2 linked regions of the Homo sapiens genome follow. The protein of the gene in region 1 purifies or fractionates together with the protein of each later gene. This does not show direct contact. Each region holds a gene or a part of one and is shown on either strand. Other genes may lie near its edges.

Region 1 (3,855 bases):
TAATACATGTAATTTTTCAAGATCTGTAATTGAAAATTCAATTTCACTAATAAAAGAGTTGGCTTGATTCCCTGGTACAGCATATTCTGAATTACATATATGCTGATTTCCCACACTATGGCTATTCAAAGAGTTCTCAAAACATCTACACAAATCCACCATAGCTTTTATGGGGGAATATTTTCACCAGTTGGCACATCAAATAGAACATACCTAAACAAACAGGTCTTTTCTCTAGATATTTCCTCAAGAAAAAATAAACAAAACACCAACTAGTAATAAACGAGCAGAAGCCAAAAGACTAAGAAGGCAGTGACAATGAGAAATCAGAAAGAAAAAAGTACTTGACATTTCCAGGGGTGAGCAAGGGAGAGTTCTGAGAAATACATCACTTTCCTGTTAGATAAGTGGCTACTCGAAAAAAAATGTGTAACTTTCTCCAAGCTCTCCAAATATATGCTTTTTCCTAAGAATAAACACTTGGGGAAAATAATAACTCATCACTCTAAATCACTAAAATTAACCACTCCTCACTCAAATTTAAACATTGAAGCCATCACTTAAATTCACAATAATGAAAGGAGTCCTCAATCTTCAGCCTATGCATTCAGACCTTAACCACACTATCTCCACTGCATTTATCAAGAATACCAAACTAGAACAGTAGTTCCAAAGTAGGTGTGTGTCATGATCCATTAGAGTACGTAAAGAATAGAATACCCTTGTTAATTTCTTCATCTCATTCTTTTTCAATATTCCTTCTTGGCAATTTTGTATAATGTGCAGTAGTAGTATTACCCGTATACAATGTATAAATTACATACGTTAAGACTGTGTGCTCAGTATTTTTTTAACTAATAAGATATATAATCAAAAACCTTTGGTGCTGGACACAGCGGCTCATGCCTGTAATCCCAGCACTTTGGGAGGCCAAGGCAGGAGGCGGATCACTTGATACCAGGAGTTTGAGACTTGGTGGCCAACATGGTAAAACCCCATCTCTACTAAAAATACAAAAATTAGCCCGGCATGGTAGTGTGTGCCGGTAGTCCCAGCTACTCAAGAAGCTGACGCACGGGAATTGATTGCACCTGGGAGGCACTGGTTGCTGTGAGCTAAGATTGCACCACTGCACTCCAGCCTCGGCAACAAAGTGAGACCTTGTCTCAAAAAAACAAAAAACAAAAACAGAACAAAGCAAAAAGGTTGAAAGATCACAAACTGACAACCTAACATTACAGGTTGCTGTGAGCCAAGATCGCACCACTGCACTCCAGCCCGGGCAGTAAGTGTGAGACTCTGTCTCAAAAAAAAAAAAAAAAAAAAAAAACACCTTTGGAAACCACAAAAATAGAAACTATTTTCCCATGGTTCAAAATTACATATATTGTATGATTTATCTTCTCCTTAGGTGTAATGATGATGATGTGGTTATGCAGAAAAATATCTTTATTCTTAGGAGATGCATCTTAAGAATTTTGGGTCCATGACCAAAAAAGTATATAGGTAGGAAGATAAAACAAATGTACCATATTGGTAAATCTCTAAGTGAAGAGCAATACAAGTATTTATTATACTATTCTTTCCACTTTAAAGTATATTTAAAAAGCATTAAAAATATATTTTAAAGATTTTTAAAAATAATGAAAAAATAAATAAAAATTAAAAATATGTATATATATAAATTTTATCAGGCCGGGTGCGGTGACTCACACCTGTCATCCCAGCCCTTTGGGAGGCTGAGATGGGTGGACCATTTGAGCTCAAGAGCTCAAGACCAGCCTGGTCAAAAAGACAAAACCCCACTTCTACCAAAAAAAAATACAAAAATTAGTTGGGTGTGGTGGTGTGTGCCTGTAGCCCAAGCTACCTGGGAGGCTGAGGTGGGAGAATCACCTGAGCCCAGGAGGTCGAGGCTGCAGTGAGTCATGATTGCACCACTGCATTCCAGCCTGGGTGACAGAGAGAGACCCTGTCTCAGAAAAAAAAAAAAAGGTTAAAAAAAAAACAAATTTTATCAAACAGAAAATTACATTTGCTGCAGTGCTGCTATTTATAAGGTATATTTTTCACAGTTTCGTAAAAACTGTCTTCTTGAATTACATGAGGAAGATACTAGGTAAAGTTAACTGCTACAGATATGTATGCTTTTAAAGAAAGAGTGAAATGCAGCAGCTGTTAACCATGCTAATTCAAATCACAGCACTGTCTTAACAATGGCTCCCCACAGTGAAAAGGCCTTGGATCCTTTTTAAAGTTTATAAAGTAATATATTCAGGACTAACCCCATTCTCCTCAATAAAACAGATGACAAAAAGGTATTTTCATCCACCACCTCTCTCTGCCAACTCTCCCTACGCAGCCTGCCTTACTAGCTAAGTTAATATGAGGAAAAACACCACCGTCAAAAGAAACATATACTTAAGCCGGCACCAGTACTTTGTTTCTAAGCAAGAACTGGGTATTTAACTGAATCTCTCTTCTCTTTACAAGACAAAGAGTAGCGAATTGCATAGATATTTCCAAGTATATAATGTGAAAAGTCAGAAAATTTAAATGATTACTGTATACACTGAGACTAAAATAATAATGAGGATAGGTGAAACTGGTGGAAAAGTCATCTGGTTTTTGAGTACCATAATATATATTTAGCAATTTTCTGTGTGCAACTGCAAGCTACTTGATATTAACACAAGTAAAATGATCGCAATGCTAAATTTCTGTTTTTATAAAGGATGTCAAAATGAAAATGGTACCATAAATAGCCAACGTTGATTAAAATTAAACATGATTACTTTAACAAAAAGAAACTTAAGGCCAGGTATGGTGGGTCATGCCTGTAATCCTAGCACTTTGGGAGGCTGAAGTGGAAGGATCACTTGAGCCCAGGAGTTCAAGACCAGCCTGGAGAACACAGAGAGACCCCCACCATCTCTTCCAAAAATAAAAACTAGCCAGGCATGGTGGCTCAGGCCTGTAGTCCCAGCTACTTGGGAGGCTGAGGTGGGAGAATTGCTTGAGCCCAGGAGTCTGAAACTGCGGTAAGCCATGATCTCACTACTGCACTCCAGCCTGGGCAAGAGTAAGACCCTGTATCAAAAAAAAAAAAAAGCAAGAATGAAATTTAAGAGAGTTTAAGAAAGTTTACTTTTCTCAGTTAATGAGGTAGAAAAAAAATAAAAACGAAATATAAAGTTTTCTGGTTTGTTCATTTGTCCGCTATAAATCTGTAGTAACAAAAAGATTTCAATGTTTTACAGACTAATTTCGTAGTCTGGAATTAGTGTCTGGAGTCTTGTCTATACTAATCAATCCCCAGAGAAAAAGGGTAAAGTACAATCTATTTTTTCTTTCTAATTCACCTTTGGAGTAGACTCCCTTTCAATGAAAGCTTTATTCACTCATTCACCCATTGGTATTTCTTCATTGAGGATATGTAGTTAAAACTAACCAGCTGCTCGAGCACAGTGGCTCATGCCTGTAATCCCAGCACTTTGGGAGGCCAAGGCGGGTGGATCAAGAGGTCAGGAGTTCAAGACCAGCCTGGCCACATGGCGAAACCCCACCTCTACTAAAAATATAATGATTAGCCAGTCGTGGTGGCGGGTGCCTGTAATCCCAGCTGCTCGGAAGGCTGAGACAGAGAACTGCTTGAACCCGGAAGTCGGAGGTTGCAGTGAGCCGAGATCACACCACTGCGCTCCAGCCTGGGCGACAGTGTGAGACCCCATCAAAAAAATAATAATAATAATAAAATAAAGCCACAAACTAACCAGCTGACACAAAGAAGCAGTGACCAGCTACACTCTGAGGTTGCAAAGTCTGTTCCTACTCCCAGCATTTACAAGCCTTATC
Region 2 (3,531 bases), on another chromosome or scaffold:
ATTTAAACTATTGGTATCATTTTTCTAATGTATAATTTGTATTACTGGGATCAAGTATGTACAGTGGTGATGCTAGTAGAAGTTTAAGCCTTGGAAATACCACTTTCATATTTTCAGATGTCATGGATTTAATGAGTAATTTATGTTTTTAAAATTCAGAATAGTTAATCTCTGATCTAAAACCATCAATCTATGTTTTTTACGGTAATCATGTAAATATTTCAGTAATATAAACTGTTTGAAAAGGCTGCTGCAGGTAAACTCTATACTAGGATCTTGGCCAAATAATTTACAATTCACAGAATATTTTATTTAAGGTGGTGCTTTTTTTTTTTGTCCTTAAAACTTGATTTTTCTTAACTTTATTCATGATGCCAAAGTAAATGAGGAAAAAAACTCAAAACCAGTTGAGTATCATTGCAGACAAAACTACCAGTAGTCCATATTGTTTAATATTAAGTTGAATAAAATAAATTTTATTTCAGTCAGAGCCTAAATCACATTTTGATTGTCTGAATTTTTGATACTATTTTTAAAATCATGCTAGTGGCGGCTGGGCGTGGTAGCTCACGCCTGTAATCCCAGCATTTTGGGAGGCCGAAGTGGGTGGATCACGAGGTCGGGAGTTCGAGACCAGCTTGGCCAAAATGGTGAAACCCCATCTGTACTAAAAACTACAAAAATTAGCTGGGCGCGGTGGCAGGTGCCTGTAATCCCAGCTACCTGGGAGTCTGAGGCAGGAGAATTGCTTGAACCCTGGCGACAGAGGATGCAGTGAGCCAAGATGGTGCCACTGTACTCCAGACTGGGCGACAGAGTGAGACTCTGTCTCAAAAAAAAAAAAAAAATCATGCTAGTGCCAAGAGCTACTAAATTCTTAAAACCGGCCCATTGGACCTGTACAGATAAAAAATAGATTCAGTGCATAATCAAAATATGATAATTTTAAAATCTTAAGTAGAAAAATAAATCTTGATGTTTTAAATTCTTACGAGGATTCAATAGTTAATATTGATGATCTCCCGGCTGGGTGCAGTGGCTCACGCCTGTAATCCCAGCAGTTCTGGAGGCTGAGGTGGGCGAATCACTTCAGGCCAGGAGTTCAAGACCAGTCTGGGCAACATGGTGAAACCTCGTTTCTACTAAAAATACAAAAATTAGCCGGGCGTGGTTGCACACACTTGTAATCCCAGCTACTCAGGAGGCTAAGAATCGCATGAGCCTAGGAGGCAGAGGTTGCAGAGTGCCAAGGGCTCACCACTGCATTCCAGCCTGCCCAACAGAGTGAGACACTGTTTCTGAAAAAAAAAAATATATATATATATATATATATGTGTGTATATATATATGTATATATATATGACTTCCTATTAAAAACTTTATCCCAGTCGGGGGCAGTGGCTCACGCCTGTAATCCCAACACTTTGGGAGGCTGAGGCAGGTGGATCACCTGAAGTCCGGAGTTTGAGACCAGCCTGGCCAACATGGTGAAACCCCATCTCTACTAAAAATACAAAACTTAAGCCAGGTATGGTGGCGGGCACCTGTAATCCCAGTTACTTGGGAGGCTGAGGCAGGAGAATCGTTTAAACCCAGGAGGTGGAGGTTGCAGTGAGCTGAGATCGTGCCATTGCACTCTAGCCTGGGCAACAAGAGTAAAACTCCATCTTAAAGGTTTGTTTGTTTTTTTTTAATCCGGAAACGAAGAGGCGTTGGGCCGCTATTTTCTTTTTCTTTCTTTCTTTCTTTCTTTTTTTTTTTTTCTGAGACGGAGTCTAGCTCTGCTGCCCAGGCTGGAGTACAATGACACGATGTTGGCTCACTGCAACCTCCACCTCCTGGGTTCAAGCGATTCTCCTGCCTCAGCCTCCCAAGTACCTGGGATTACAGGCACCTGCCACTACACCTGGCGAATATTTGTTTTTTTTAGTAGAGACGGGCTTTTACCATGTTAGGCTGGTCTCAAACTCCTGACCTCAGGTGATCTGCCTGCCTTGGCCTCCCAAAGTGCTGGGATTACAGGTGCAGGCCACCACACCCGGCCTTGGGCCACTGTTTTCAAAGTGAATTGTTTGTTGTATCGAGTCCTTAAGTATGGATATATATGTGACCCTAATTAAGAACTACCAGATTGGATCAACTAATCATGTCAGCAATGTAAATAACTTTATTTTTCATATTCAAAATAAAAACTTTCTTTTATTTCTGGCCCCTTTATAACCAGCATCTTTTTGCTTTAAAAAATGACCTGGCTTTGTATTTTTTTAGTCTTAAACATAATAAAAATATTTTTGTTCTAATTTGCTTTCATGAGTGAAGATTATTGACATCGTTGGTAAATTCTAGAATTTTGATTTTGTTTTTTAATTTGAAGAAAATCTTTGCTATTATTATTTTTTCCAAGTGGTCTGGCATTTTAAGAATTAGTGCTAATAACGTAACTTCTAAATTTGTCGTAATTGGCATGTTTAATAGCATATCAAAAAACATTTTAAGCCTGTGGATTCATAGACAAAGCAATGAGAAACATTAGTAAAATATAAATGGATATTCCTGATGCATTTAGGAAGCTCTCAATTGTCTCTTGCATAGTTCAAGGAATGTTTTCTGAATTTTTTTAATGCTTTTTTTTTTTTTGAAAGAGGAAAACATACATTTTTAAATGTGATTATCTAATTTTTACAACACTGGGCTATTAGGAATAACTTTTTAAAAATTACTGTTCTGTATAAATATTTGAAATTCAAGTACAGAAAATATCTGAAACAAAAAGCATTGTTGTTTGGCCATGATACAAGTGCACTGTGGCAGTGCCGCTTGCTCAGGACCCAGCCCTGCAGCCCTTCTGTGTGTGCTCCCTCGTTAAGTTCATTTGCTGTTATTACACACACAGGCCTTCCTGTCTGGTCGTTAGAAAAGCCGGGCTTCCAAAGCACTGTTGAACACAGGATTCTGTTGTTAGTGTGGATGTTCAATGAGTTGTATTTTAAATATCAAAGATTATTAAATAAAGATAATGTTTGCTTTTCTATTTCCTTTTGAATTTGTGTTTATTGTTAATTCATAGCTATTCAAAGTGTGATTAGAGCTGGGCTTGGTGGCTTGCATCTACAGTTCCAGCTACCCAGGAGGCAGAAGCAGGAGGATTGCTTGAGCCTAGGAGTTCGAGGCTGCAGTGAGCTATGATCCTGCCACTGAATTCTAGCCTGGGCGACAAAACAGGAAAAAAGTATGGATGGAGGACCAGCAGCATCTGTATCACCTGTGAGTCTTTCAGAAATGCAGAGTTTCAGGCTACACTCGGACCTACTGAATCAGAACTTGCACTTTTTACAAGATCCCCAGGACACTAAAGTATAGAGTGAAGCTTGAGAAGCGCTGTTGTGTGGATTGTTCTTAACCAGCTGCAGTGATGAATATGAATAACGCAGGCCAGCACAGTCCATTGATATTCTATTCCAGCTTACTGCCTGCCAAAAGGTCCATTATTACTGGATCCTCAGTCTTTTCCAAGAGAAGCTAAGAATTCCA

What was found.
Region 2: the proteins of AEBP2 (region 1) and ATXN3 purify together in Homo sapiens (affinity purification with mass spectrometry; 3 studies listed by BioGRID and IntAct, with this or other methods). This does not show direct contact.

What each region holds. Positions count from the first base shown.
Region 1 is NC_000012.12:19,494,804-19,498,658, reverse strand, and holds part of AEBP2 (zinc finger protein AEBP2), read right to left. Parts: intron 1-3,855. UniProt on the Homo sapiens protein: Acts as an accessory subunit for the core Polycomb repressive complex 2 (PRC2), which mediates histone H3K27 (H3K27me3) trimethylation on chromatin leading to transcriptional repression of the affected target gene.
Region 2 is NC_000014.9:92,058,052-92,061,582, reverse strand, and holds the end of ATXN3 (ataxin-3 reference isoform), read left to right. Parts: 3' UTR 1-3,031; downstream 3,032-3,531. UniProt on the Homo sapiens protein: Deubiquitinating enzyme involved in protein homeostasis maintenance, transcription, cytoskeleton regulation, myogenesis and degradation of misfolded chaperone substrates.